Regions from separate parts of the Homo sapiens genome. Here regions 1, 2, 3, 4, 6 and 7 are each linked to region 5. Evidence: fine-mapped expression QTL. A gene starts in region 5. Each other region holds a variant in brackets. All regions are shown on one strand. Distances are from middle to middle. Region 1 has its middle 190 kb from the start of LINC01239. Region 2 overlaps LINC01239 (long intergenic non-protein coding RNA 1239). Region 3 overlaps LINC01239 (long intergenic non-protein coding RNA 1239). Region 4 has its middle 13 kb from the start of DMRTA1. Region 5 holds the start of LINC01239 (long intergenic non-protein coding RNA 1239). Region 6 overlaps LINC01239 (long intergenic non-protein coding RNA 1239). Region 7 overlaps DMRTA1 (DMRT like family A1).

What was found. PIP is the estimated chance that this variant, and not a neighbour inherited with it, causes the effect. A credible set is the group of variants that fine-mapping cannot tell apart.
Region 1: its variant is the best candidate, but not a certain one, in a credible set for the expression of LINC01239 in transverse colon (GTEx, PIP 0.59).
Region 2: its variant is the best candidate, but not a certain one, in a credible set for the expression of LINC01239 in ileum (GTEx, PIP 0.86).
Region 3: its variant is the best candidate, but not a certain one, in a credible set for the expression of LINC01239 in subcutaneous fat (TwinsUK, PIP 0.71).
Region 4: its variant is the best candidate, but not a certain one, in a credible set for the expression of LINC01239 in thyroid (GTEx, PIP 0.77).
Region 6: its variant is the best candidate, but not a certain one, in a credible set for the expression of LINC01239 in subcutaneous fat (GTEx, PIP 0.90).
Region 7: its variant is the best candidate, but not a certain one, in a credible set for the expression of LINC01239 in esophagus mucosa (GTEx, PIP 0.76).

The regions. Positions count from the first base shown.
Region 1 is chr9:22,831,874-22,835,945 of GRCh38, reverse strand. No RefSeq gene overlaps it. Among named protein-coding and RNA genes, the nearest start is that of LINC01239, 190 kb to the right of the region's middle. The variant G/A (reference allele first, on the strand shown) is at 2,031.
Region 2 is chr9:22,821,545-22,825,616 of GRCh38, reverse strand. LINC01239 (long intergenic non-protein coding RNA 1239) reads right to left here. Exons shown (of 6, transcript NR_038977.1): 5 at 4,019-4,072; 6 at 1,404-2,365. Among named protein-coding and RNA genes, the nearest start is that of LINC01239, 180 kb to the right of the region's middle. The variant A/CATAAA (reference allele first, on the strand shown) is at 1,706.
Region 3 is chr9:22,765,608-22,769,679 of GRCh38, reverse strand. The region is part of intron 4 of LINC01239 (long intergenic non-protein coding RNA 1239); the gene reads right to left. Among named protein-coding and RNA genes, the nearest start is that of LINC01239, 120 kb to the right of the region's middle. The variant A/C (reference allele first, on the strand shown) is at 1,680.
Region 4 is chr9:22,458,006-22,462,077 of GRCh38, reverse strand. No RefSeq gene overlaps it. Among named protein-coding and RNA genes, the nearest start is that of DMRTA1, 13 kb to the right of the region's middle. The variant G/T (reference allele first, on the strand shown) is at 2,303.
Region 5 is chr9:22,643,707-22,647,778 of GRCh38, reverse strand. It overlaps LINC01239 (long intergenic non-protein coding RNA 1239), which reads right to left and starts at 1,579. Exons shown (of 6, transcript NR_038977.1): 1 at 1,483-1,579.
Region 6 is chr9:22,755,920-22,759,991 of GRCh38, reverse strand. All of the region lies in intron 4 of LINC01239 (long intergenic non-protein coding RNA 1239), which reads right to left. Among named protein-coding and RNA genes, the nearest start is that of LINC01239, 110 kb to the right of the region's middle. The variant T/G (reference allele first, on the strand shown) is at 2,277.
Region 7 is chr9:22,452,277-22,456,348 of GRCh38, reverse strand. DMRTA1 (DMRT like family A1) reads right to left here. Exons shown (of 2, transcript NM_022160.3): 2 at 609-4,072. Among named protein-coding and RNA genes, the nearest start is that of DMRTA1, 7.5 kb to the right of the region's middle. The variant C/T (reference allele first, on the strand shown) is at 2,198.

The sequences.
Region 1 (4,072 bases), 190 kb before region 5:
ACCAGGTAGATTGTTAAGGTTTTTGACTCTAGCCCCTGACTTCCAGACAGCATCTCTGGACCCACCCAAAGCCAAGGGGAACTCTGCCCTGAAAGGAAGGACACAATCCTGGCTGGCCTCACCACCTGCTGATTGTAGAATCCTAGAGCCTAGAGCAAACATAAGCATTAGCCAGGTAGTGGTTCACATCGGGCCTTGGGCAAGACACAGTCCTGTGCTGGCTTCAGGTCTGACCCAGTGCAGTCCCAGTGATGGTGGCCACAGTGGTGCTTGTGTCCTTGCACCCCCTAGCTCTAGGTGGCTCAGTACAGACAGAGAGACTCCATTTGTTTCGGAGAAAGTAAGAAAATAAAACAAGAGTCTCTGCCTGGTAATCCAGATAAATCTTTTGGATCTTATTCAAGACCACCATAGTGGCTCCTATACAAGGCTGCAAAAATCACAGCACTACTGATCTTCGGGTGCCCCCTAATACAAATATAGCTAAGATCATAATATTCAAGTCCCTTTAAATATTTGGAAAGCCTTCCCAAGAAGGATGGGTACAAACAAGACCAGACTGCAAAGACAAATTAAATACCTAACTTTTCAATTCAGAGTCTTCAATTCAAACCAGAAACTGATGAACATCCACAAGCATCAAGACCATGCAGGAAAACATGACCTCACCAAACAAACTGAATAAGGCACCAGGAACCAATCTTGAAAAAACAGAGATATATGGACTTTCAGATAGAGAATTTAAGGTAGCTGTTTTGAGGAAATTCAAATTCAAGAAAAGACAGAGAAGGAATTCAGAATTTTATCAGATAAATTTAACAGAGATTGAAATGATTAAAATAAAGTAGAAATACTGGGCTTCAAAAAAAGTAATTTATATACTGAAGAATGCATCACAGTCTCTTAATAGCAGAAATAAGCAAAAAAAAAAAAAAATTAGTGAGCTTGAAGATAGGGAATTTGCAAATACTTGATCAGGGGAGAAAAAAGAAAACTATAATAAAAAAAGAATAAGCATACCTATAAAAAATAGCCTCAAAAGACCAAATCTAGGAGTTAGTCATCTTAAAAAGGAGGTAGAGAAAGAGATAGGGATAGATTATCTATTTAAAGGAATAATAAAAGAAAACTTCTGAAATTTAGGAAAATATATCAATATTTAAGTACAAAAAGATTATAGGACACCAAGCATATTTAACTCAAAGAAGACAGAGTATTAGGGTTCTCTAGAGGGACAAAATCAATAGGATATGTACATAGATACAGATATAGATATAGATATGGATATAGATATAGATATAGATATATAAATGAATATATATCTATATGCAACAAAGCCCAGTAACAGGCAAAGGGCAGTCTCTCAAAAGGAGAGTAGTTACCTGCAGAAGATGGCAGGACCTTGCTCCAAAATCCTAGAGGCCTCTGCTGTGATTCACCTATGGGGGCCTGCCAAAGGCTCCGAACAACATGCCTATCTGCCACTGCCACCTCAAGCACCATTGGATCTGCTGGGTCATACGGCCTATGTGGCATAGCAGCTTGCACAGCACCCTGGAACTGTTGCAGAGCCTTCTCCTGTTCTGGACCCACTCAAAACTGGCAGCCTTTTGGGTCACTGGATAAATGGGCCAGAGTAACACACCCAAATGTGGAATGTGGTGCCTCCAAAATCCAAAAGACTCACTAGGCGTTGTACCTCTTTCCTGGTTATAGGAGGGGCCAAATGCAGCAACTATCCTTAACCTTAGAAGGAATATCTCAACAGGCCCCACACTACTGAACCCCTAGACATTCTACGGAGTAAAGGGTCCCTGAATTTTACTCAGATTTATTTCCCGTCCCCTAGCACACAGATGTCTCACCAAATAAATCTGGTGTGTTTGATACTTCTTGCTCACTGGATCCAATCAGCATACTGTAATCAGTGTAATATCTTGTGGAAGTGAAAACCAATCAAGGTCTCTCCAAATCAGCTAATGACACAAAAGCGGAGAGTTGATATACCCCTGATGTAGGAGAGTAAAGGT[G/A]TATTGCTGGCCTTGCCAGCTGAAGGCAAGTTGCTTCTGCTGGGCCTTGTGGACAGGAATGGAGACAAAGGTATTTGCCAAGCCAATGGCTGCATACCAGGTACCAAGGATGTGTTAATTTGCTCAAGCAATGAAATCACATCTGGTACAGCACCTGCAATTGGAGCCAACACTTGGTTAAGCTTATGATAATCCACTGTCATTCTCCAAGATCCATCTGTCTTCTGCAAAGTCAAATGGGAGAGGTGAACGGTGATGTGCTGGGAATCATCACCCCTGCATCTTTCAAGTCCTTGATTGTGGCACTAATCTCTGCAATCCCTCCAGAGATACAATGTTGTTTTTGATTTACCATTTTTCTAGGTAGAGGCATCTCTAGTGGCTTCCATTTGGCCTTTCCAACCATAATAGCCCTCACCTTACCAGACAGGGAGCCAATGTGGGGGTTCTGCCAGCTGCTAAGTATGTCTATGCCAATTATGCATCTGGCACTGGGGAAATGATTATAGGATGAGTCCAGGGACCCACTAGACCCACTGTAAGTCGGATCTGAGCTAAACCTCCATTAATTTCCTGACCTCCATAAGCCCCTACTTTAACTGGAGGACCACAATGACGTTTTGGGTCCCCTGGAATCAGTGTCAGCTTGGAGCCAGTGTCCAGTAGCCCCTGAAATGTCTGATCATTTCCCATTTCCCAATGCAGAGTTACCCTTGTAAAAGGCGAGAGATCTCCTTGTGGAAGGACGGGAGAAAGATTAACAGCATAAATTTTTGGTAGTGTAATGGGGTCCTTCCTCAGGGGGACCCAGCCTCCCCTTCATTCAAGGAATTCTGAGTCTGTAAACTGAATCAAGTCTGGAAATTGACTGAGGGGCCCCAATTCTCTGTTTTTTATTTATTTATTTATTTATTTTTTATTTTTTGCTTTTGTTTTGTTTTGTTTTGTTTAGAGGTGGAGTCTCGCTCTGTCACCCAGCCTGGAGTGCAGTGGCGTGATCTCAGCTCACTGCAACCTCCGTCTCCCGGATTCAAGCAGTCCTCCTGTCTCAGCCTCCTGAGTAGCTGGGACTGCTGTTCACTACCACACCCAGTTAATTTTTGTATTTTCAGTAGAGACACGGTTTCGCCATGTTGGTCAGGCTGGTCTCAAACTCCTGACCTCAGGTGATCCACCCACCTTGGCCTCCTAAAGTACTGGGATTACAGGTGTGAGCCACTGCACACAGTCAATAATCTGTTTTTTTAATTCAAATTATTCTTTTGTCCATTTGATCTGGAAGTTTTCTGCTTATATAAATTAAGTAGGAATGCAGTAGGCTTCCTCTCAATTTCACTTCTAGAAACACTGTGCTTAATTAGCCAATGCCAGAGCTCTACCTGAGTCAGACTATTCTGATTGCTGCTTCGCCTCTACTATCCATTACAGTAGCTACACCCACCTTCCCTTTGACAGTTGAGTGCTGCCACTTGGTCCCTGCCACCTCAGGGATCCAATTATTCTCATTGTCTTCAAGTTTTGTAGTTGAGTGACTGCAGTTCCCACCATTAGATCTGACATACAGAGAAGAGCAATTACAGGGTTCTTTAAAGATGCAGGTGCTGCCCTCACAAATCTATTTTGCAAAGCATAGGTCAAGGGTATATTTTCTGGACTCTCCCAGCTGGGATGGTAGGTATAAAGTAACTAATCCACTCCACCATCCCTATTTTCCCAAGCCTTTGGATCCCTTTCTCTACATTAAACCAAGGGAGATCAGGCATTTCCAGCTCACTCACAGTGGACCATCTTTTAATCCTTATCTCAGCCAACCAAGAAAATAAACTATTACAACCTGTTTTAACTCATCAAGCTGCAACGTTAAATGCAGAATCCCTATTTAGTGGGCCCAAATCAATAAATTCAGCCTAATCCAAATCTGTGTTCCTTCCACCATTATTCCATACCCTTAATATCCATTCCCATACCTGTTCTCCAGATTTTTTGCTTATATAAATTAGAAAACAAAAGCAGTTCTTTACGAGTGTAGCATACCTCCTCAT
Region 2 (4,072 bases), 180 kb before region 5:
AAGATTATTTATTATTTTAAAAGATTAATTATTATATAACATTTTATACCCTCATATACCACCATATTTGTGGAACAGGTGGGGCAATAATATAAAATAGGCAGGATAAACATATTTAATTAGATAAAGAAGCTATTATTCATATAAAGCAAGAATAGAAATCATACAAATAACAGAAATTTTCATTTAGTGAAAATGTCAAGTGTGAAAAAAGTTGCTATCTAAAGAAAGAAATCAATATCTTGAAAATCAAGCATATATGGAAAACAGCAGGATTGATAAACGTTTGGAGTAAATAATAAATTAATGACATATTAAAATTGAGAAAATTTTCCATAGGGCAATAGGAAGTCATAAAATAGATTAAAATAGTAAATAAAATTAAGATATACAGATAGTATCTTTATTTAATATATCTGTATTCTATTGTTTTATATAATTGCACTTAGAAATAATATTTTCTTTTTGGGATTTTCTATTCTTTTTTATTAGAAGCTTTAGCTTTCAATAAATATGTACAATTAAATTTTCAATAAAGATATACAATTTCACACATTTTAATATGGTAATACCATAAATACTATAAATCATTTGAGCTATGTTTTGTTCTAAACAATTTAAATTATGTTTATTATTTAACTACCTATCTGGGAAAAACTTCCAAAAATCTTATAACATTTGTGTGTGTGTGTGTGTGTGTGTGTGTGTGTGTGTGTGTGTGTATTTTCGTTCATTTACAAAAGAGTCAAGAGCAACTACTGATTTTCAGTCGGATACCTAGAAGACTACACTGTGGAAGCAGGGTGAATCCAATTCAGACTCTTACCCCCGAAATGTAGCCAAATGTTGAGTAATCTCAGTTTCTGAACATCATAAAAAAAAACCATGTAAGACACTTTGGACAACAAATACTGAGAAAACGTTTTGCTAAAATATATGAATAAAAAGAAATACTAATAGAGAGAAGGAAATGATGACAGATATAAAAGTAGAAAATTGTAAGAATGCATAGAGAGCAATAAGAAAACTGTACATATGTGGGTAAATATAAGTAAATGTTTGCATAAAAACAACAACAATCCCTTATGAGGTTTCAACTCATGTAGAATGAAATTCAGGACAACAATAACATAAAAGGTAGAAGGAGTTAAATAGAAAAGTTTTGGATTACTGACATTGTCAGTAAATGAAAAAAGTCATCTTTACGTTTAAGACTAGAATAATTGAAAGATGCATCTTTTGAATAACTAAAAAGTAAGAGAAGCTCTACATAAAATGTTAGAGATAAAAAATGGTAGATTAAAACAGCTTGTTGATCAATCAAAGACTCTGGCAAATGAAGAGAAAAAAGCATATGTAATAATAAAGTCAAACAGAAAGAAATACAAGACGTAATACTTTTTAAAAAGTTGGTGTATTTTTATTAAGATTAAAGTAGAAATTGAAGCAATCAACATGTCTAGATAGATAGTAAGTAAGTAAGTCATGCCAGTAATGATCATGGTTTACTCCAAAAGAATGACACCACAATTCTACATTTGTATGCAGGAAATAATACAACTTCAAAATGCATAAGGTAAAAAAAGAACAAAACTGAAAGAACAACTCAAGAAATTCACAATTGAAGTGGACATCTTTAACACATATTCCTGGATACTTGATAGAACAAATAGAAAAATGACCAGTAAGAATACAGAAAACATAA[A/CATAAA]AAACATCATGGATGAATTTAACTGATATATAAAAAAGTTAATTGTTTTTCTTTTCTTTTTTTTTTTTTTTGGTAGTTGAAAGATTTAATAGAGTGAAAACAGAGCTCCCATAAAATGGGAGGGGACCCAAAGTGGGTAGCCATTGCTGGCTTGAATGCCTGAGTTTATATCCTGATCATTGTCCCGCCCCTTGTGCTGTCAGGCGATAGATGACTGGCTATTTCTTTACCTCCTGTTTTTGCCTAATTAGCATTTTAGCAAGCTCTCTTTACTACCTGATTGGTCGGGTGTGAGCTAAGTTGCAAGCCTAGTGGTTAAAGGTGGGTGTAGTCACCTTCCCAGCTAGGCTTAGGGATTCTTAGTTGGCCTAGGAAATCCAGCTAGTCCTGTCTCTCAGTCCCCCATCTCAACAGAAAACCCAAGTGCTGTTGGGGAGGTTGGCCAACGACCACTCTAACTGCTTCCTGCTGAATTGGGGCGTAGTAGGTGTCATGCAGTTGAGATTTCCTCGGGAGGGGTGCCTTTGATGTCATTAATGTGGGAGCTGGGCTAGCAGGCCGGTCCAGAGGTCCGCAGTAGATCTTAGTCATGGACTGCATCTGGGGCTCCATTTGGAGAACCATTTGTAGTTTTATAGCTTTGATTCTGGAAGAGACAAACTTAACAAGGAGGTTAAAGATACAGAGATTGAAATGTATGGCCTGCATACAGGGGATTATTTCTTTGGCACACTTCACAGGACCTGACTATCTGCTTGATAGTTTTGAAAAGGCCTGGTCCAACAAATAATAATTTGTCCATCTGATGGGTGCTATCAATGCCTAAGTGAAAGGTTTGGTGAAGGATTTTAAGTAATTTCCATTGGTTAGTTGCAGGCAAAATATAGCAGCATCACAAAAATGTGCAAAATAAAATACCAAGTACCATGGAATAAACCTGTAAAACAACAAACTTTATGAATGATATTTAAAAGAACTCAAATATATGGAGGAATAAATCATCTTCATGGATTGGAAGACTTTATAAAGATTTCAGTTATTCTCAGATTGGTTTACAAATTCAATGCAGGACAACTTTGGCTATTATTTTAGGGATAACAACCATACATATATACTTAGATGTCAAGTGGTTGAAAAGTAAGAAAGAGAAGAATGTATAGGGATGACTGAGGTTTTGTACCTAGGTGGCAAGGAGGGTAGAGATGTCGTCATCTGACATTACATGTCCCTCTCCAGAATTTAGGTAACAAAATGCAGGCATGTAGAATTAGTCACATACTTTCTTTTGAAGTTTCTTTCGAAATTCCCATATAAATACCAAAATCATTCTGAGAAATTCTGGAATGTGACAAGAGTTCTGAAGGAAAATGTCTCGAAATTGCTGACCCACTGCTCCTTTGATAAGTTAATGAAATCTGGTTGCAAATCTAATCTATATTTATAGCAGGTTTTGCTTTATAAAAAACACCATTGATCTAATTCCAGTCGTTTTCCTAACACCTCAAATAAGGCATCAAATATTTTGTCAGAACTTTGCTTTGCTAATGAAAATAAACAATTTAATTTTATTGAGGAATTTGGAATCTTCAAATACTGTATCTGTGAACAGACAAGAAACTTAAATAATCGATGAAAAAATGATAGTATTTAAACAATACTGGCCCTATTACTAAGTGCTGGGAGGACACTGAGGAAGTTATTAAAATTTGGAGTTAGGCTGATAGGTTTTTGGATTCTATTCATGTATATATGGCATTCATCTAGCACTGATGCTGCTGACTTTTAAGTCAAGAATTCCTGAGTAACTGTGGTTTTGTTGCTCACAGATCTATTCCATCCGTCCATCAAGCATGGAGTTTACACAAACACACACTCACACGTGTGTATACGTATGGTCAGTATATATGTTTTATATATGTGTGTGTGTGTGTGTATATATATATATATATATATATATATATATATATATATATATATATACTGTTTTACTGTTCACCCAAAAGACATATGCCTGTTATTTTGAATTAAAAGGCTTTGTAATTTAATATTGTTAAATCTATAGTATTAGGTTGATACAAAAATAATTGTGGTTTTGGATTGTGAATTTTAAATTGTTATAGCTAGGCTCAAACACATCTATATTAATCAAAATAGACACCATTACAATCAACACATTTTTGCCAACAAGAAATAAGTTTGCTTACTCCCATGGCATAAAAATCCATGTTTTGGGATTCAGTGAACTCTTGGAAAGCATTTTCTGCATCCTGCTGGTTGTAGAAACAATTTCCCTGCAAAAAATTGTCGAAATACCTGAAGAAGTGGTAGTTGGTTGGTGAGAGGTCAGGTGAATATGGCAGATAAGGC
Region 3 (4,072 bases), 120 kb before region 5:
AGAATGAGAAACTGCTGGGGCTGCAATAGGCAGGGGGAGTGGAAGGGCAGGTGGAACATTGTGTGTCTTACCTCCAGGAACCCTACCAGGACCTCATAGTGAAGATCTGAAAAAGATCCTTTTGTGGCTCTAGCAGAAGAAGGGAAAAAGAAATAAGCTAACAGCATCCTTCTATTACAAACGCCTACTGTCCACAGGATAAAGCTTTGCCATAGCTTTATCCTACTTGGAGGAATGGGCTTACTCTCACTGCAACCCTCTTGAGCCTTCCTGTTTCATGCACAGTGAAAGAAGGAATTTAAGAAACACTTGTGAAGGTCAGAGCCAGGAGCACAGGCCCAATAAAATAGCAAAATTTAATTTTAATATTACAGAATGCTTCCTCTCCTTCACAACTTACCACCAAAAAAACAGGGCTCTAAAATAATACATTGTATTTCAGCTAAAAGAGTTGTGAGACAAAGATTATTTGAGGAGGAATACTGAGGGAAGCCCAAGTCAACCAGTGACACAAAAATAAGGTCACTGGAGAAATTTGAAACCTCTGACACCTGCAGACGCATACACATTAAGCACAGCCCATCAGATATTAAATACAGTTTAAAGCACCCAGATTAACAAAAACCTTTACACTAAACGTGTACTTCAGTTTTTATTACCTGATACATCATGTCTGACTTTAAACATGGCAAAAGGCAAGAACGAACAGATTCTGAAGAGAAAAAAAGTATCAAAACCAGATGCAGATATAAAGTTGACAATGAAATTATCAGAGAGGGGATTAAAATGAACTATAATTAATATATTAAAGGCTTTAATGGAAAAAGTAGAAAATTTTTTGTGAAGTTTATATGAGAAGATAAAAGACCTAGAATAAATAATCAACCTAATAATGAAGAAGAACAAATTTGGAGGACTGACACTACCAACAAAAGGAATCAGGGCTTCTTAGAGAAATATCTAATTCTAAGACGTGGGCAGTTAATATGCAAGATGAGTTTTTGGCATCTTATAGTGTTTGAAAATGAAGAAAAATTTAAAAAGTGAAACAAACATACTAAACACAATGATGTATTATGTCAAAGGGACTAAGAGTCACCTGAAAGAGCTCCCATTGTCCAAAGCTGGAAACATCTGAACAGTAAAATAAAAGGTGGTATTGTATTATAAGCCAAAGTATAAAGTACCCATGTAATTATCCATGAATCCATATTGATATGAATAAATGACTGAACAAATAGAGATGAATGTCAAATAATATATGTAGATACTCTACCTTCAAAGAGGTGAAGCATAAATCTTTATTACTCAATTGTGAATTATGCGTAGTGACTTGCTTCCAAATGGTGCTATATAACAAGGGAGGAAAAAGAATAACTTTACAGTAAGAAAATCTGCAATTGCTACCTCATCCAGGTAATCATGGTTTACATCTACAATGTTATGTACACTTGGCATACTGTGATAAAATAGCTTTTCCACGATGATTTACCTCCATGCCTTACTTCTGTGCCTTCCCTCCATGTATCCCCATCATCCCAGTCTAATTATAGGAAAGCATCATACAACTCTCATTGTGGGAAATACCTGACTGTACTCTAGAAAACTGTCAAGGTTATAAAAACATGATTATCAAAATTCTTGTCTGAGAGTGTCACAGCCAAGAGGAGCTTAAGAAG[A/C]CATGATGACCAAAAGTAATTTGGTATTCAGATGAAATCCTGGAACAAAAAAGAACATTATGAACAAAATCTGAATAGAATATGGATGTATTTAATACTAATGTATAAATATTGCCTAATTAATTGTAACAAATTTACCACACTAATGTAAGATGTTAAAACAGGAAAAACCTGCATTTATGGGGGTAATGGCAACTCTGTACTCTCTTCACAATTTTTCTGTAAATCTAAAATGGCTCTAAAATTAACAGTTTATTTTGAAAAAGAGAGAACAGGTAAACTTATAAAGACAGGAACAAAACTAAAATTAATACAGACTGTTCATTAGACAGTAGGAAAAAATGCTTGAAGAGCTGAAAGAAGAAAACCATAAACTTAAAATTTTATATTCATCAAAAATGTACTCCAGATCCTTCCTATTACATATAGAAACACGACATAAATGTTAACTATCAGTCTTCCTATCAGCATTGTACTGATGAACTAACTCATCAAACAAAAAGAAATATGAGCTATTAGGTTGGGAAAGTGTGATAGATTGAATTTCAGCCCAAATTCTTTCTCCCCTCTTTATATCTGTTCTTTTCGTATACAAGTTTCAAGTACTGTCCAAGTCTGGGCAGGAAATTTTACTCAGCCCTTAATGTTGTGATTCATAGCTTTGGCCACGTGCTGTTTGTAAACAAGACACAAATAGAGACTTCGCACATACTTAGATAATTGGACTTGTTTACCTTTGCACCTCTACTTTCACCATGAGAACTTGCCCAAGTTATTCTGAAGAATGAATGTGGGACATATGGAGCTTCACTGCATAGCCAGCCAACTGTAGACAGAAAATGTAACTCAGGAAGACACAAACAAACAAACAAACAAAACACAAACCAAACAAACAAAAATCCCACCAAACCTAAATCTCTGATTTTCAAATTCACAATATGAATAATTATTAGAACAGTGAGTTTAAAGTCAACTTTCTACATAGTATTATTGTGGTAATACGTACTAATACAGAAAGAGTAAATTTTTATTCTAAGATGATATAATTTCATGTAGAAAATTCAAAATAATCTACAGACCATTATAATTCAAAAATGGATTAAAGAAGTTGGGTGGATCCAAGGTTAATGTAGAAAATTTATTTGTGTTTGTATATGCCAACAATAAACAATTATAAATAAAAATTTAAAATATGATTAATAATTTCATAAAAATTCACATAGTAATGATGCAGTAAAAGATATACAAGACTTTTATTCTAAAAATGTTGAAATGTTATTTGGAGAAACTAAAGAATACTTAAAACATTAGAAAGTTTATGAAAGTTCAATATTGTTAAGATGCCAAATTACTAAATATTGATCTATAAATTTAATATAGTTGCAATCAACATGTCAGCAATTTTTTTGGTGAAGATTGATGAGCTGATCATAAAACTTATATAGAAACAAAAGTTCCCCCAAAAAACGAAGACAATCTTAAATAGCAAAGAACAACATTAGAGGTCTTATATTCTCAAATTTCAAGACATGATAAAGTTATATTAATTGAGGAGTTAATTGTGCATTGTTAGACAAATAGACCAATGGACAGAAAAGAAAACCTAGAAATATACCCACATATTTCCAGTCACTCCAATATAGTCACCTAATTAGAGCAAAAGAGGATGGACTTTTCTGTAAGTGACAGTAGAATGTTTGGTTATCTATATGGAAAAATTATGAACCTTGAGATTTACTTCATACTATTCTTAAATATAAATGTGAATTTGATCTTAGACCTAAATCTAAAATTAAAGCAGTCAAACTTGTGTGGGGAAAAAAAAAAACAGAATATATTCCTGACTTAGGATTACGCAAAGGTTTCTTAAACAGGAAAAGCAATGACAACAAATATAAAACTCAACTGAATTACATTAAAATTAAAAACTTCTGTTTCTCAAAATCATGATTAAGAATTGAATAAGCAAGCCACAGACTGGAAAAAAATATTTACAATACAAGAATCTGGTAAAAGGCTTATATCCAGAATGCATAATACACTCCTACAAAACAATCAGGAAGAGGTAAACAATCCAAATTTTAAAATGGCAGAGATGATCAGGCAATTCACAAAGTAGCATATTCAAACCAAAGATATATGAAAAGGAACTCAACTACATTACTATCATTATTCATCAGGAAAATGCAAATTAAATTCAAACTAAGATTATAATTACACATTCACCGGAATGTTTAAGTAAAAAATAATGAATACTAAGTGTCAGTGAAAATGCGCAGAATTTTGCTGGTGGAAAGGAACATTTTTACAATCATTTTAGAAAACTCTTTGACACTATCTACTGAAATAAAACATAGACTACTATGTCACATAGCAATTCTTCTAAGTGCATA
Region 4 (4,072 bases), 190 kb after region 5:
CCCTGTATAATTCCCTTCTCCTTTCTCAGATCCATTACCTACTCTTACCTAGCTTCTTGAGTTAAATTATTTGATTATTTGTAAACTTTTGAAAGGTAATACATTTAAAGCTGAAAATTTCCTTTTCTCAGTCTCTTAAGCTGCATCACACTGTGTAGTAGTTAATTTGTAACTATCACTCACCTCTAAGTATTTTTCACAATACTCCATTGAAATTTTACTTTCTACTCCTAAGTTACTAACAGTACTTTCGTTTTACTTTCTTAGCGTGTAAAAGGAGGCGGTTAGAGGAAAGAAAAGTTGTTATGGTTTTTCTTCAATTAAAAACATTTTAATATAATCCTATTGTGACCAGAAAGATGGCTGGCCAGTATAATAATTGTTCTTTGAAAATTTTCAGGCTGCCTGAATGGCACAAAAATGAACAAATTTACAGTCTTTCTCATCTCAGTAAGTAAGAACACCATTCAGTCCAGTTGTTTAGAGCAAAACTGTAGAAGAATCTTTGGTACCTTTCTTTTTTTTACACCCGAATCCCTAAGCAAATCTTACGGTTTCTACATTCAAAATGTATCTACCATCTTATTACTACTTACCACACCTCCAACTCTTTTTTTATTTTTACAATCATCTTCTAAGCCACTGTCGTCTCTTATCTGGTTTACACAACAACCTCCAAATGTATGTTTTTGCTCCCTTCTTTGCTCCTTTGTTCTCCACCACACAGTGAGAATGATCTTTTAAAATGACGTTTTCCTATGTCAAAAATCTCGACTTTGTATGTTGTCTTGAATGAAATTCATGCATATTCTGTGGATTATGTCAATTTCCTAGTTGTGACATTGCACTAAAATTATTCAAGATGTTACTCTTGGAGAAAAGTGGGTAAAAGGTATATGGGATGTTTCTGTACTGTTTCTTACAATGACAAGTAATTTTAAAATTATCTTAAAATAAATTTTTAAAGCTAGTGAAATCAACAGTAGGTCAGCCTAAAGACATTAGGCATTTACTATTATTGATTCCCTGTATTTAATATGTGCCCATGCTTTGATTCGGAGTAAGAAAAAATACTGCTTCATAAAGCTATACAATTGAAAAACTATGAAATTTATAATATTTTATATGCTTGATTTTGTTCTGTCAACTTGGCTAAGACTGGAAACTAAATTTCCCGGAATTTCCTTCCCTATATGTTTCAAAGTTTGAGTTGGCCCAAAGAGGAACTCTACAAGATTTACAAAGCAGAAAGGAAGCAGAAGTCATTACAGTGAGAAAGATTCAGCGGTACCCAGCAGGTCTTAACTTGTCCTTTCTCTCTTCCACTAGAAAATTAGCGTATATTCCTAATTGCTGATCTTGTCGACCAAGAGCAGCCCAATTCCCACCAGCAGGTGTTTGGCTGAGGACTCACGGATGTAGTAGCTACATAGAGAAAACTGCTTTCTATAGACACCTCCATAGTGCCCTTTCCATTAAGCCACTCTGGCAAGATCATGTGCACTGGGTTTTGGAGATTAAAAGTCGGAGTGGATTTATTACATGTTAACTGCTTATGCACCTCTAAATTATATTCCCTAGGAGACCCTCGAAGATGGTACCCCCTTGGTAAAGAAAGCACCATCATCATCAAAGTCCTCTGTTGTGGCTTTTCCCTGTATGCCAGGGATATCTGTGAGACTTGTGGCCAGGAAAATACCCTCCCTGAATTCACAAGGGATGATGTGACCCAGGAGTTGTGAAATCCAAGAAGTGGCACTTATATTACAGATACAAGATGGACATGAATTCTATGTTTTAAAAAATTGTGCTGAAGCAATTACCAGAATGATATGACCTACAGAGATGTTTTGCATTGACTAATCAATAATTGTGTTTCTACAAATGAAATAGGTGGGCAGGTTAATAAAGTCACACTTGATTTGTATAGGTGGAAAAGCACTAGGTCTGATAAAGCTAAGTCTGCCTCAAATTATCATAAGGAAAGTAATGACCCCTCAACATACTTCTAGAGTTGAACCTGTTTATAGACCCAGAGCCTCTTGCAGAAAGTGAAGATGGGTACTTGTAAGTAGAGACTCTGCTACACTTTCAGTAATTTACATAGTAAATATTTCTCCTAGCTTTCTCCGAAAGGACCTAAACCAATTTACCAAGAGACTATACATTAAGAAAATAAAAATAACCCTACTTTTTAGAATTTACCGAACAATAACTACTCTCTAGAAACCTAAACTGCCACTGTGGTCCACCAGGCTGGGTAGGTCTTAAAGAGGTGAGTAAGGTCTAATCATCAATGACA[G/T]TTTGGTTCAAGTCCATCTCACAGTGAGTCTAATGGGCTCCCAAATCTATTCTACATTTATTTCCTCATTTCTGGAAAGCATCTTTGGAAGATACATATTCAAAAACTGGCAGAATTTCCACATTGGATCTCTGACACAGGGACTGAGGACTATTACAATTGGAAATGTCAAATAGAGTCTTAAGAACTTTTCTCCCTCCCAAAGCAGTGAAACAAAAGCAATAACACATTCCTAGAGGGACCACCAAAGTTTGTGCCACAGTCAAGGATGGAAGGGGTCCTAACACATTCCCATTCAAATCACCTATTTGGCCTGTGGCTAAGGCAGATGGATCTTGTGGAATGACATAAACTTAATTAGGTAATGATTATAACTGCAGTTGTATTTCCAGATGTAGTTGCTTTATTGGAACAAACCAACACAGCCTCTTTTTTGTAGTTTTAGGCTGCTGATGTCATAAATACTTTTTCTCTATACTTGTTAGTAAGAACCACTAGAAGCAGTAATGCACGTAGCATTCCTTAAGACTATTTCAACTCTCCAGCTCTCTGCTACAGTGTAGTCCACCAGGAAGTTGTTTGCTTCTCCACTCTATGGGACATCAAGCAAGTCTACTACATAGATAGGCCACCAAGAACTTGTTTGCTTCTCCATTCTACGGGACATCAAGCAAGCCTACTATATAGATATCATTCTGATTGAACCCAATAAGCAGAAGGTAGAAAATACTCTAGATATCTTGTCCAGAGATATGCATGCCAGAGGCTTGAAGAATAAACCCTATAAACATTCACGAGCATGTAATATCTGTGGAATTTGTAGGAATTAGGGCCTGGTGCATATTGAAACATCTCTTATCAGATGGAAAACATGTTTGTGTATCTGACACCTGCTATCTCTAAGAGGTGGAGCTCTGTATTTTGGTTCCAATAGATACCTGATTTGGGCATCTTACTTTAAACCATTTACCAAATAATCCAATAAGCTCTCAGTTTTGAGTCAGGCCCAGATTACAAGGTGGTTCTGCAACAGAGCCAAACTGTCATTCAACCTCTCCTGCCATGTGGGCCATATAACCCAGCAAATCCAATGGGGCTTGAGGTGTCTTATGGCAGCTAGAGATCCTAAGGGAAACCTTCAGCAGATCCTTATAGGTGATTCACAGTATACCCCTCTCAGACTTCAGAGAAAAGTTTTGTTTTCTCACAGGGAATTATTGTCCTTTTGAGAAACTGCTTCCTTCTTGTTACAGGTTCCCACCAGAGTCCTGACACTTAGTATTGGCCATCAAATAAGCAGGTGACCATAAGTATTCATATTAACAAGGTGTTGTCTGACTCGCCAAGTGTTACGTAGCAGTACTTCATCAAGTGGAAACAATAGATGAATTTTCCTCCAAAGATGTTGAAGTAAGTCATAAATAAGTTGCATAGAAAGTGGCTTAAATTCCCATGGCTTCTATTCCTGCCACACCACCTCCTCTCTCTTATGTGGAGCTGTCTATTACAGCAGAATGAGGAAGAACAATTTTATCCTTGTTCACAGTTGGTTCTGCCCTATTCTGGCACTATCTGAATTGGACGATGAGGCACTACAGGTGTGGCCTTGAAGTATAGTGGTGAAGAAAATTTTTCCAACGGGAAGAACTTCAAGCTATACACCTGATTGTTCATTTTGCCTGGCAGGAGATATGGATAGAGGTACATATCTGGAATCAGTCATGAGCAGTGACTAACAGTTTGGCTGGATGGTAAGCAAGTTAGAAGAAA
Region 5 (4,072 bases):
AGCAATTCACATAAGAAAATAAACAGGTAATATAACGGAAGTAGTATCTATATTTGTGAGTCACAAAAATGAACTAGAAATCACAGTGAGATATCATTATTCACTTTACACAAATGAGAAGATAGAAATAAAAGCATCGGCTGGGCGCGGTGGCTCACGCCTGTAATCCCAGCACTTTGGGAGGCCGAGGCGGGTGGATCACAAGGTCAGGAGATCAAGATCATCCTGGCTAACACAGTGAAGCCCCGTCTCTACTAAAAATACAAAAATTAGCCGGGCGTGGTGGCGGGTGCCTGTAGTCCCAGCTACTCGGGAGGCTGAGGCAGGAGAATGGCGCTAACCCGGGAGGCGGAGCTTGCAGTGAGCCAAGATGGCACCACTGCACTCCAGCCTGGGCTACAGAGTGAGACTCCGTCTCAAAAAAAAAAAAAAAAAAAGAAAAGAAAAGAAAAGAAGTAAAAGCATCAATTTCACCACAAAAAATTAATTTGGAGGATAAAGTATAATATGAGAACCCACTGGCATGATAATAATCCAGGAATTATACAGACTTCCCCCTGTTAAAAGCAATGCTAAGCTAGATCATGTGTACCAATTTACAAAGGTAAAATCTTGCTCTCTGAGGGCAGCTGTCTTCTAAGACAAAAAGGGTGGAACTATTCGGAGCATGTCTAATTGATTTTTTCCAAATTTATTAATCAGAGTGAATCACTCCATCTTCTCTGGTAGATAGTGAATAGAAGAGCAGAGAGAGGCAAGGAGTGTAGCACACGGAAGACCACATTCACCTGGAAAGAAATATCAGGACTGAGGACAAGAATTCCTCTCCACACCTTCTCCCCACCCCATCACCCTGCCAAATTCCAGTACAAAATAGTTTCACTAGCTGGTCTATCATAGCTTTGGAAAATCCAATAGTAGAGATTCAGTTATTTGAATAGAGTTTCTTTTTTAATAACAAATGACCCCAGGAGGCAAAATACCGATAAATCCTATAACCTTTAGTATGTTATCAGAAACGAAAGTAGCCTTGAGAAAAGGAGAGATCAGACTGGAAAAAGGAAAACGGACTCAGAAACTTAGTTATCTCAGCTATGAAAATTAGGTAGTTGAACTCCTTGAAATACAGGGCTCCATCCAATACTATGTACCAATTGTGGGATAACTAGAAGTAAATACAGAGTTAAAACTGTAGTCTCAGTTGTTGTCGGTAATAACAGCAGAGATTGCAACCTAAAGGGAATGTGCAGCACGATCAGATGCACACAATCTATTTTCCACTTCTCTAGTGTGTCTCAGCTTGTTAAGGTTAAATACAGAATTTTTTTTCTATTTTGCTTTATCTGTCAGTATAAGATAATTAAAAAGAAGTGAACTTCCTTCATCCATTTATCTTGGATGGCATGCACACTTTATTCTGTTATCACCAAAAACATAAAACCTAGAGAAAATGCAAATTAAAATTTTTATAAATGTACATACCACATAGTTTTATAGACATCTATGTTCCACTCTTAAGCCAGGGTCAAAGTAGAATTCTCTTTGGTCTCTCTTCCCTTAGAGGAACAGAAAATAAAAGACCGAGAAAACAGACTGTGATGGAGGATTCATTATAAGCCAAAACCTGAATCACCATAATTACACACAGTTCATAAGTGCAAATCGTACCCATCTCTTGGCAGATTAAAAAGCCAAGTGATGAGTAATATTGCTGAGCTAAACATGCCTGTTTCATAAGCCACTCAAATCAACACTCCTGTTATCCCTTGACACACAGGCAAAAATTCTATCTGTAAGCCTAATAAAATCTCATTTGTTTTACCTGAAGGTCCTATGAACCACCTGGTGCCTCTCTTTGCACTTGTTTTTCTCTATTAACTTATGCTTTGTAGAAATTAAGGCTTTAATCTGATAATTCTTTCCACTAGCTTTTAATTATTAGGTTAATGTGTGAATTTGAAGCAAGCAGTCCAATATGAAACTATTAAGAAAAAAGTTGAAAATGCTGAATGATATTAGAAATTCTAGACGGTAAAATTTAGACAATAATTAGTCTTCTGATTTTTCCTAATGACAGTTTGTAGGAAATACAGGTTGAGCATCTCTAATCCAAAAGTTCAAAACTGGAAATGCTCCAAAATCTAAACTTTTTGATTGCTGACATGATGCCACAAGTGGAAAATTCCACACTTGATTTCATATGACAAATCTCAGTCAAAACACAGACAGAACTTTGTTTCAGGTACAAAGTTACGTAAAATATTATATAAAATTATCTTCAGTTTTGTGTATACAGTGTATATTAAACATAAATGAATTTTGTGTTTAGACTTGTGTCCCATCCTTAAGATGTCTCATTATGCATATGCAAATAAATATTCCCAAATCTGAAAAAAAAAAAATCTGAAATCTGAAACACTTTTGGTTCCAAGCATTTTGCATATGCGATAGTCAATCTATACTGTACAATGCTAGGTTATATTCACAAAAGAGTTGTTCACAACAGTCTCAACTTTTGATTAGAAAGTTGTTATTGCGGTAGCTAAATCTATAAACTTTTTAGCACATCAATATGGTAACTGCTACACATAAATATAAAATTTATTTTTAGCTTTAAGTTTAATGACTTCTCTTTAAAAAAAAAGCTAATAGTCAAATACAATGTATGTTTTCAAATTTAAAATATTTTTGCTTAAGAGTAAGATTTAAGCTTAGTGACGAGAAAAAACCTGAGACGTTTCTTGAGATATAAATATTGTAGCCTTTAATTATTAAGTGTTTTCAGAAGCAAAAATTAGCAGCCAACTATTTGCTAATAAAGAATTAAGTAACTTGTACTTTAAATACCTTATTGGTAAACTTACATCCTTTTTCTTGAAGAAATCAACCATACTAAGAAAAAAACTCACAGAAAGTTTTGTAAGTCAAGTAAAGGTTTGGTCTTAACACAGGCTCAGTTATGATGCCTCCACTGAAATTTGTTCAAGTGTGGCAGAATATGACAAAAATATTCCCAGTTTCTGTCGATGTATGAGCAGAGAAAGAAAAATGTCTATTGTTTGTCAAGTCACTAAAATTTCATGCTCCCTATTTTGTTCTTTTTATTTTTTCATTCTATGTTGCTCTGTCTCATCTGAGATTAGTGCCCTTATAAAAAGAGATATGAGAGGGCTTGCTTCTTTTGGCTTTCCTCCATGTGGGAATATAAGGGAAAAGCAGCCATCTGCAAACCAGGAAGCCAGCCTTCACCAGACACTAGATCTACTGACACCTTCATCTTGGACTTCCCAGCCTCCAGAACTGTGTGGTCACATAAGCTACCCAATGTATGGTGTATCTGTTTTAGCTGCTCAATCTAACACACATGGAGGAAAGCGGACAGGACACAAGCCCTCTCATATCTCTTTTTATAAGGGCATGAATCTCATTCCTAGGGTTCCACCCTCATGTCCTAATTACCTCCCAAAGGCTCCACCTATAAATACCATCATTTTAATGATTAAACTTCAACATACTAACTTGATTTGGGGGTAAGGGTATGCAGATATTCAATCCATAGCATCCTGCGACCTCCTCTTCTCTAACCCTCCACCAACCCTTGACAATCATGAGGAAACTGACACAAACTATATAACTATATGCTTATATTTTTTCTATCCCCATCTATTGCTGGATCATTTTCTATTACATCTTTGCCTTATTACATTCCAGAATATGAGTTTATCCACAGAGAGCTCATTGCTTCCTGAGACTGTTCAATTATGATTTAGACAACACTAATTACATTTCTTTTTAAAAATATTTTTTTCTGGTGTTGAACCAAAATCTTCATCCCTTAATTTTCCTCCATGGGTTCTAGTTCTGCCACCTGTTTTCTACATAGCAACTCTTTCAAAATATTAAACTTCAGATTTCACATGCTTCTGAGTTATTTGACTTTTCTCCATAACAAGTATCAACAGTTGTTTATGCCATTTCTCATATAAAGCACTCCTTGTAACTGAGGAACACTGTGGCTTCTACCCAAGGAGGAGAAACTATGCATATTTGAGTGGTGAAGAAACTGAAACTG
Region 6 (4,072 bases), 110 kb before region 5:
AAAAAGAGAATTTTAGACCAATATCCTTGATGAACATTGATGCAAAAATCCTCAATAAAATACTGGCATACCGAATCCAGCAGCGCATCAAAAAGCTTATCCACCATGATCAAGTGGGCTTCATCCCTGATGCAAGGCTGGTTCGACATACACAAATCAATAAACGTAATCCAGCATATAAACAGAACCAAAGACAAAAACTACACGAGTATGTCAATAGATGCAGAAAAGGCCTTTGACAAAATTCAACAACTCTTCATGCTAAAAACTCTCAATAAACTAGGTATTGATGGGATGTATCTCAAAATAATAAGAGCTGTTTATGACAAACCCACAGCCAATATCATACTGAATGGGCAAAAACTGGAAGCATTCCCTCTGAAAACTGGCACGAGACAGGGATGCTCTCTCTCACCACTCCTATTCAACATAGTGTTGGAAGTTCTGGTCAGGGCAATCAGGCAGGAGAAAGAAATAAAGGGTATTCAGTTAGAAAAAGAGGAAGTCAAATTGTCCCTGTTTGCAGATGACATGATTGTATATTTAGAAAACCCCATGGTCTCAGCCCAAAATCTCCTTAAGCTGATAAGCAACTTCAGCAAAGTCTCAGGATACAAAATCAATGTGCAAAAATCACAAGAATTCTTATATGCCAATAACAGACAAACAGAGAGCCAAATCATGAGTGAACTCCCATTCACAGTTGCTTCAAAGAGAATAAAATACCTAGGAATCCAACTTACAAGGGATGTGAATGACCTCTTCAAGGAGAACTACAAACCAGTGCTCAACGAAATATAAGAGGACACAAACAAATGGAAGAACATTCCATGCTCATGGATAGAAAGAATCAATATCATGAAAATGGCCACACTAATGGCCCAAGGTAATTTATAGATTCAATGCCATCCCCATTAAGCTACCAATGACTTTCTTCACAGAATTGGAAAAAACTACTTTAAAGTTCATATGGAACCAAAAAAGGACCCGCATTGCCAAGACAATCCTGAGCCAAAAGAACAAAGTTGTACGCATCACGCTTCCACCGCCATTTTTAAAACAGACCATTCTTTGCTTATTATGTATTCTTGGTGACTTGTTGAAGATTAGTTGACCACAATTGTGTGAATTTATTCTATTCTGGGATTTCTGTTATGTTTCCTTGGTCTATGTGTCTGTATTTATGCCAGTACTATACTCTTTTGATGACTAGCTTTATAATATACTTTAAAACCAGATAGTATGAAGTCTCCAGCTTTGTATGTCTCTTCTAATTTTGCTTTGGCTATTTGAGGTTGTTTGTGGTTCTATATGAATTTTAGGATTGCTTTTTCTATTCATGTGAAAAATGTGATTGGAATTTTGATGGAGATTCATTGAATATGTAGATAGCCTAATTACTAACATTAAAATATGTAAAAGTTAAAATATCCTGGCAAAGGCAAATATATAGGTCAATTCAGAATACTCTAATACTGTAAAGTTGGTTTATAAATCATTTTTAACTTCAATATAAAGTTTAAAAGACAGAAGTGCTAAAAATAACATTCGCTACAATATTTTATTAATAAATACACAATAAAAGATATATATTGTGATATTAAAAGCATAACATTTGAAGGTGGAAGAAGAAGCAAAAATGTCAAGTTTTTGTATGCAATTAAACTTAACTTATTTACAGCTTAAAATAGACTGGTATAACTGCAAGGTGTTGTACACCTCTTAGTAACCACAAAGTAAAAACCTATAGTAGATACACACACACACAAAGTAAATAAATATAGAGAAAGAAACTGAAACACACCACTGAAGATCATCAAATCATAATGGAAAATAACCTGAGTCAAAGAAAGGAAAAGGGAAATACAAATGAGTCCGAAAACAATTAGCAAAATGACGCTAGTAAGTCCTTACATATCAATAATTACTTTAAACATAAATGGATCTTAGAGAGTCTAAGTGGATTAGAAAAAAAAAAAGACCTAAGTATATCCTGCTTACAAGAGACTCACTTTAACTTTAAGAATATACATAGGCTGAAAGTGAAGGGATGGAAAAATATTCCTACAAATCTAAACCAAAGAAAAGAGGTGTAGTTTTATTATTTTCAACAAAATAGAGTTCAAGTCACTGATGCTTTTAAATATTTATATCTTTGGTCATTTATCAGGGTTGTTTTTAGTTATTCCCCATGGAGGACTGACTTTCAAAATCCCATCATTCATAGAAGTAAAAGTTATCCCATCCATAATATTTTGAACACAAAGCTGACAGGA[T/G]TTCTGCTGGATTAGATGTGAGTTTTGAGAGAATCAAAATATGACTTCAAGTTTTGAGTTTGAGCATTTAACAGAGGACAGTTGCTATTTACTGAGAAAGGTACAGTAACTCAGAAAAATAGAAATAGGCAAATATGTAACAGGAACATAAATTAATCAAAATAGAGCAAAGTGCTAGAGAAAAGATCAAAAAGGAAGTTCTTTAAAAGACTGATATAATAAACAATTTTATAAAGATTGAACAAGAAAAATGTCAGATGCCAAGGCTATCAACAAAGACACTGCAAACAAATATATTAAGCAAAGTGTATGAACAATTTAAAGCAAATTTGAAAATGAATATGAAATGAAAAATTATCTAAAACAATGTAACTGATAAAAACCAATAGATATATAAATGAGACACTTTGATATTTAGACTTCATAAATTAGAAACTTTAATATACTTGAATAGAAATATTTACCCACCAAGAAACCATAAACCTGAACCAGTTTGTGTTTTTCAAAATACTTTCATAATAAATTATACCAATGCTATATAATATCTTCTAGTAGAAAACACCTTAAAATACACTTTGTAAGCATTACAATAATATAAAAACCACAGGCTCTCAGAAGACCAGAAAATTATAGGCCTACCTAATTTAACATGAGAATTTTAAGCAAACTAACAGCAACTGAATCCATTCACATATCAGCAAGAGACCACCTCTTCAGTCCTCAAAAACAAGAAAAAGCAAGATAATTGCTGAAACCTGAAGGAGACCCGAGGATTAGATGTTATTAATAGTTCAGTGTTAACTTCATGATGTTGTTTGTGATACTGGATTTTGTAGGAGGAAGACTTACTTGTAGAAAATGTACACTACATTACTAGGAAGTTATGTGAAATTAGGTTAGAAATTTACACTTAAGAAAAATTATTTGTAGTGGTTTTGCAACCTTTTTATAAATTTCAGATTTTTTTTTCTCAAAATAAAATTTAAAAACTAATGGGTATGAATAGACAAGCCACAAGCTGACCAGTGAGATACAGTACTTTTACTTTTTCTACTTCCCCTTTCTTCAGAAATTATTTTCAAAGAAAAAGCAGCCTTCTTTTGATTTGGAGAAGACAAGTGAATAATGATGGCAGATGGAAGAGATGGAAAGAGGTTCTTAAAGCAGGCTATATCTTTGATGTGACCCTTGACTTTCCACCTCTTGAGACAATACCTTGTTTCTAAGCCTCTTTTAATATGTATCTCTGGTACTTATAGAACATTAATAGTTATATCAGTGCTTAAAATAATTCAAATCTCTCATAATCAAATAAGCTAAAATTGGGACTAACAGTATGTTGTTAAAACTGATAGAGAACAAATCGGAAAAATATTAGGTAATAAAGAACAACTCTCTAAAAACACATTTGATATTATAAATGAAGTGGTCTGTTTTGGAGGAAACTAGATATTATTCAAAAATAAAGACTAAATGATAAAATTGAAGAAGTCTGAAGTGACTCAAGAATAAAACCTGATAATCTCATGGAAGAAATTGGGAAATATTATTTTTAAAAATTCCTAAAGATACATTGGTGGAGGCTCTTTTACTTGTGAATTTTCTTAAATTTAAGAAACATTTAATTCCCAGGCCAGACACACTGATTCAGAATATAAAAAATGGTGTCAAGCTACACAATGTAACTCATAATGACAGAACACAAAATCTAACAAAGAACCCCTTGAAATAAAACTACAGGATAATTGTACTTAAAATATATACATCATCAAATGGAAGTGAGTTAAAATCAATAT
Region 7 (4,072 bases), 190 kb after region 5:
AAAGCCGTGTTGACAAGGAGTACACTGTACTAGACTACACTATCAGTTTGGCTGACTGCAAATTACATTTCTCAGAATTCCCTTTCCTGTATTGTTCAAAGTGAGATTGGCCCAGAAAAAGGAATTATGGTGAGATTGTTAAGGTAGAAGTGAAACACAAGTCATTAAGGTTAGATACCCAGTGATTTCCAGGCTGTCTTCACTTTTCCTTACTCCACATCTAGCTTGTCTTCCTGCCTTCTGACCTCACTGACCCATGGTGGCACAGGTTCACCACCAGGTGTTTGCTCACAGACCAACAGAGCTAGAACCTACACAGAGGCACTGGTTTCCCATAGCCCCCCTTCAGAACCCCTGGCTGGGAACCATTTGAGTGATTGGACATGCTGGACTTCACAGAGCTTCAGTTCCCACTTGTCAGCCCACACCAGTGCTTCAAGTAGATGAGTGAATCTTTCTCTTATCTGCCAATTTCCCTCTTCCAGACATTCATTTTCAAGCTCCTCCTTTGTTTATGTTAGGTTAAATTTCTATAACTCCCTTATTTCCACATATTACATGGACTCTGTTTTCCTGACAACCCCAATAAATGTAGCATAAACACAAACTATGATTTCGATGTTTATTTTCTTCAGAAAGCCCTGAAAATAATCCAAATAACATATACGAGAATATGTTACAAAACACGTGGCTCGCCTATGAAATGAACAACCAAACACGAAGTCTGGAACTAAGCCTGTACGCTGCTCTAGTGATGGCTGCCCTTTGGGCTCCACATCCACTAAGTGGATTAAATGCAATTACAGTACTCTTTGTTGAGAGACTGCCACGAGGGGGCAAAGATAATATCTTAATACAAAGTAATAACAGTGAGAGTTATTTATTTAGCATCCCGTATATAAGCATTACTGTACTCTGCCGTTTATTTAAGCTTTTATCTCCACGAATCTTGCAAGTTAAATATTATTACCCTTGTTTTGCTGAGAAGAAATAAATGTCCAAAGAGTATAAGTAACCTGTCCAAGTCATATAGATAAATCCATTCTAGGTTTCCTCAATTCCAAAACAATTGCTTCTTCTAGAAAGACATATTGGTATTTACCTTATAGGAATTGTACTAATATTTGTCTTCAGTGTTCTCCCATATCCTCTTTAAGCCCCACTCATGCCTATATACCTTACACTAACCTCTGTCAGTTTTATTCCCTTGTAAGTCACGCACTGCGTTCTATGTCTTTCTTTTCTGCCTACTCTCAGGAGGCTATCACATAGGCAAAATTCTGATGAGCAAAACTGCACTGTGTTTTATTGATAAATAATGGTAGGGTGTTTTAATTTTCATGGCCTTAGAATTGAAATTCCATGACTTATTTATTTAACAAATACTTTCCATGTTTCTAATGAGCTACAAAATGATTCAGTCCCAATATTAAAGCAGTAATTAAAAATCCCATCAATCAGGCTCTGATTGGTATTTTCTACATGCATTTTTCAATGAGTTCCAGATGCTTTATCATACGAGGCAGCCACTACACTCTTGGACAGCTGTTAACTGTGAAAAAAGTCATTCCTTATGTTCTTCTGAATACTCTATGAAATGTTTGCCTCTTAGGCCCTCTATATGATACAGAATAAACCCAATTCATTTTTGTTATATGCTAGCTCTTAAAGCATTTACCCCCTCTTTCTTCCCACCACTAATTAGTGGCTTAGGAGTTCAGGCTTCAAGCAGCATCCATGGATATAAATATCAAGATTACAAAGAACTCATTGATGTACCAACACTGTCAAATAATACCAACATTGGTTGATTGGTTGTTTTTGTACACACAATATAGACCGTGAGCAACTTGAGGCAAAGTCTTGTATCTTAATCATTTCTTTATCTCTTGTGTCTAACACAGTGCATGGCACAAATAGATTATTAAAAATATTAAATAGGTGTTGAATGAAGAAATTATTAAGCTAATACTTGCTTTTATTTTTTTTCAGTCAGTGGAAATCTAGTGTATAGGTTGAGAACCTATATCAGACACTGTTCAAGGCCATGAATGAAAAAAACAGACATGAATCCTTCCTCAGACATTGGAGTCTGAAATTGCTGAAGTGAGCACAGTAATTCCACTGCAGATGACTCATATTACTAACCTTAGGGAGAAAAAACCCTACTGCTGAGCCCCAATTTCCTCATATACTA[C/T]TGAGTTGTTAGACAAATGACCTATTTGATAAGATTAAGTCCTTAAATTATTATAAAGAGTATGGAATGTGTAAGGCATTATATAAATTAAGTTTTATGATTATAAAACTATTTTATAAATTCGAATACTGCCCAAAATGGATGTTCTCCCAAGGTCAAAAGCAATTCAGTTTCTCAGATACAAGCACATCATTATAAAACCACATACATAATGCAGTAACTCTAGGATTTTTTTTTAAACCATATCTCTATTGTATAATGTAACTTCCTTTAGAGCACAATATTTTACATTCAGTATCCTCTACAGGATCTAGCACTTTTCAGAAAAATAGCATTCAATAAGTGGATTAATGCAATAGAAACAACTGAAGAATCACCAAGGAATCTAACCTGAATACCATTTAGGAGATTCAAGAACCCAGTGAAATTGTATGCAAAACTGTGTGTCTGTACGCCATTTTGTAGAGTTCTTCAGTTTTATCAGAGTCTCAAAGAGATCTATTATATATAAGAGTTTCTTACTCAGTATATATGAATTGAATTTCAACTACTTGCTAGACATTGTACTACGGTTTAGGCTTAGAATATAAAACTTTTTTATAATAAATGAATATTGAGTACATCGAAATTTTTCAAGATCTGCTTTCTTATATTCACACCATTAAAATTAATGCATAACCTAATAAACACATTTACATCCTAAATCAGCATCAGATACTCTGAAGTAATTTAATATCACATTTGCTGGCAAAATATTCCTTGGAAATACATTCTTACTGGCTTCATGAAAAACGCCTCCATGATAATATAACCTATAGGGGTTTAATGTATGTCTACATAGACTTATATATGTGCATATAGATGCATACACACATACGTATATACATATAATTTAAAAAATCTTTAGTGAGTCATGCTGCTTAAATAGTTTAAACAATCTCTAATTCATCAACTATCTTTTACCACCAGTGGGCTTCCATTTATTCCTAATAATAACAATGAAGCTACTGTCCTTCAAAAAAGAAAAATGATGACATACAAAGAAAATGTCCTAGAAACTGTTTTGTAAGCAGTTTCCTCAGGGACTTTCCACTGACTGAAATAAATAGTTTTCAAATGCGCCAGAGGGAGGACAAAAATTATTTTTAAAATTGCAAGAATACCTCTGAAACTTCATGGCAGTTTTTCCCCTTTGGAAATCTTATATCTCTCCTCAGTGCATTAAGCATCAACTATCTGCAGTTAATAAATATTTATTTGAGCAGCTATTTTAGTTTTCTGAATAAAATTATTCTTACCTTTGAGAATGGCTGCCATATATTCTTGTCCCAAACTTTTAAGGATATTTCCCCAGATACAGACATAAGCACACTTAAAGACTGCAACTCTCATCCACAGTAGATGTGCACTTTACAGTATGGAAATTTTAATGTAGTATAATCCAAAATGACTATTTGAAAAAAAAATGGTTATTCTCCGGAATCAATGTTTCTAATTCATATACTCTACAGAGCTCAGTTGCAATTGGCGATAGTGGCCAGGAGATGGCGCAGTCTTATTTCCTAAAATTTACTTCATAGACACAGTGTCAACTTTAAAGAGAAATGTTTTTTAATGGCACTTGTTTTCACTCATGGAAGCTAAGATTGAAAAATAAAATACTCAGGAAATATAAATTCAAAATGCTCAAATGTTTTATTTATTACGAATCACCCATCTGCAAATCAAATGCTTTAAAAATACTTTGAATAACTTTTTTCTTTCCTATGAACCAGGAATAGAAGAAACAGTTTTGAAATGGTAATTATTTAGAATTGCCTTAATTGTTCAGTTCTTCCTTTCGGTTTATATTCTATTCTATTATGCTGTATTGCT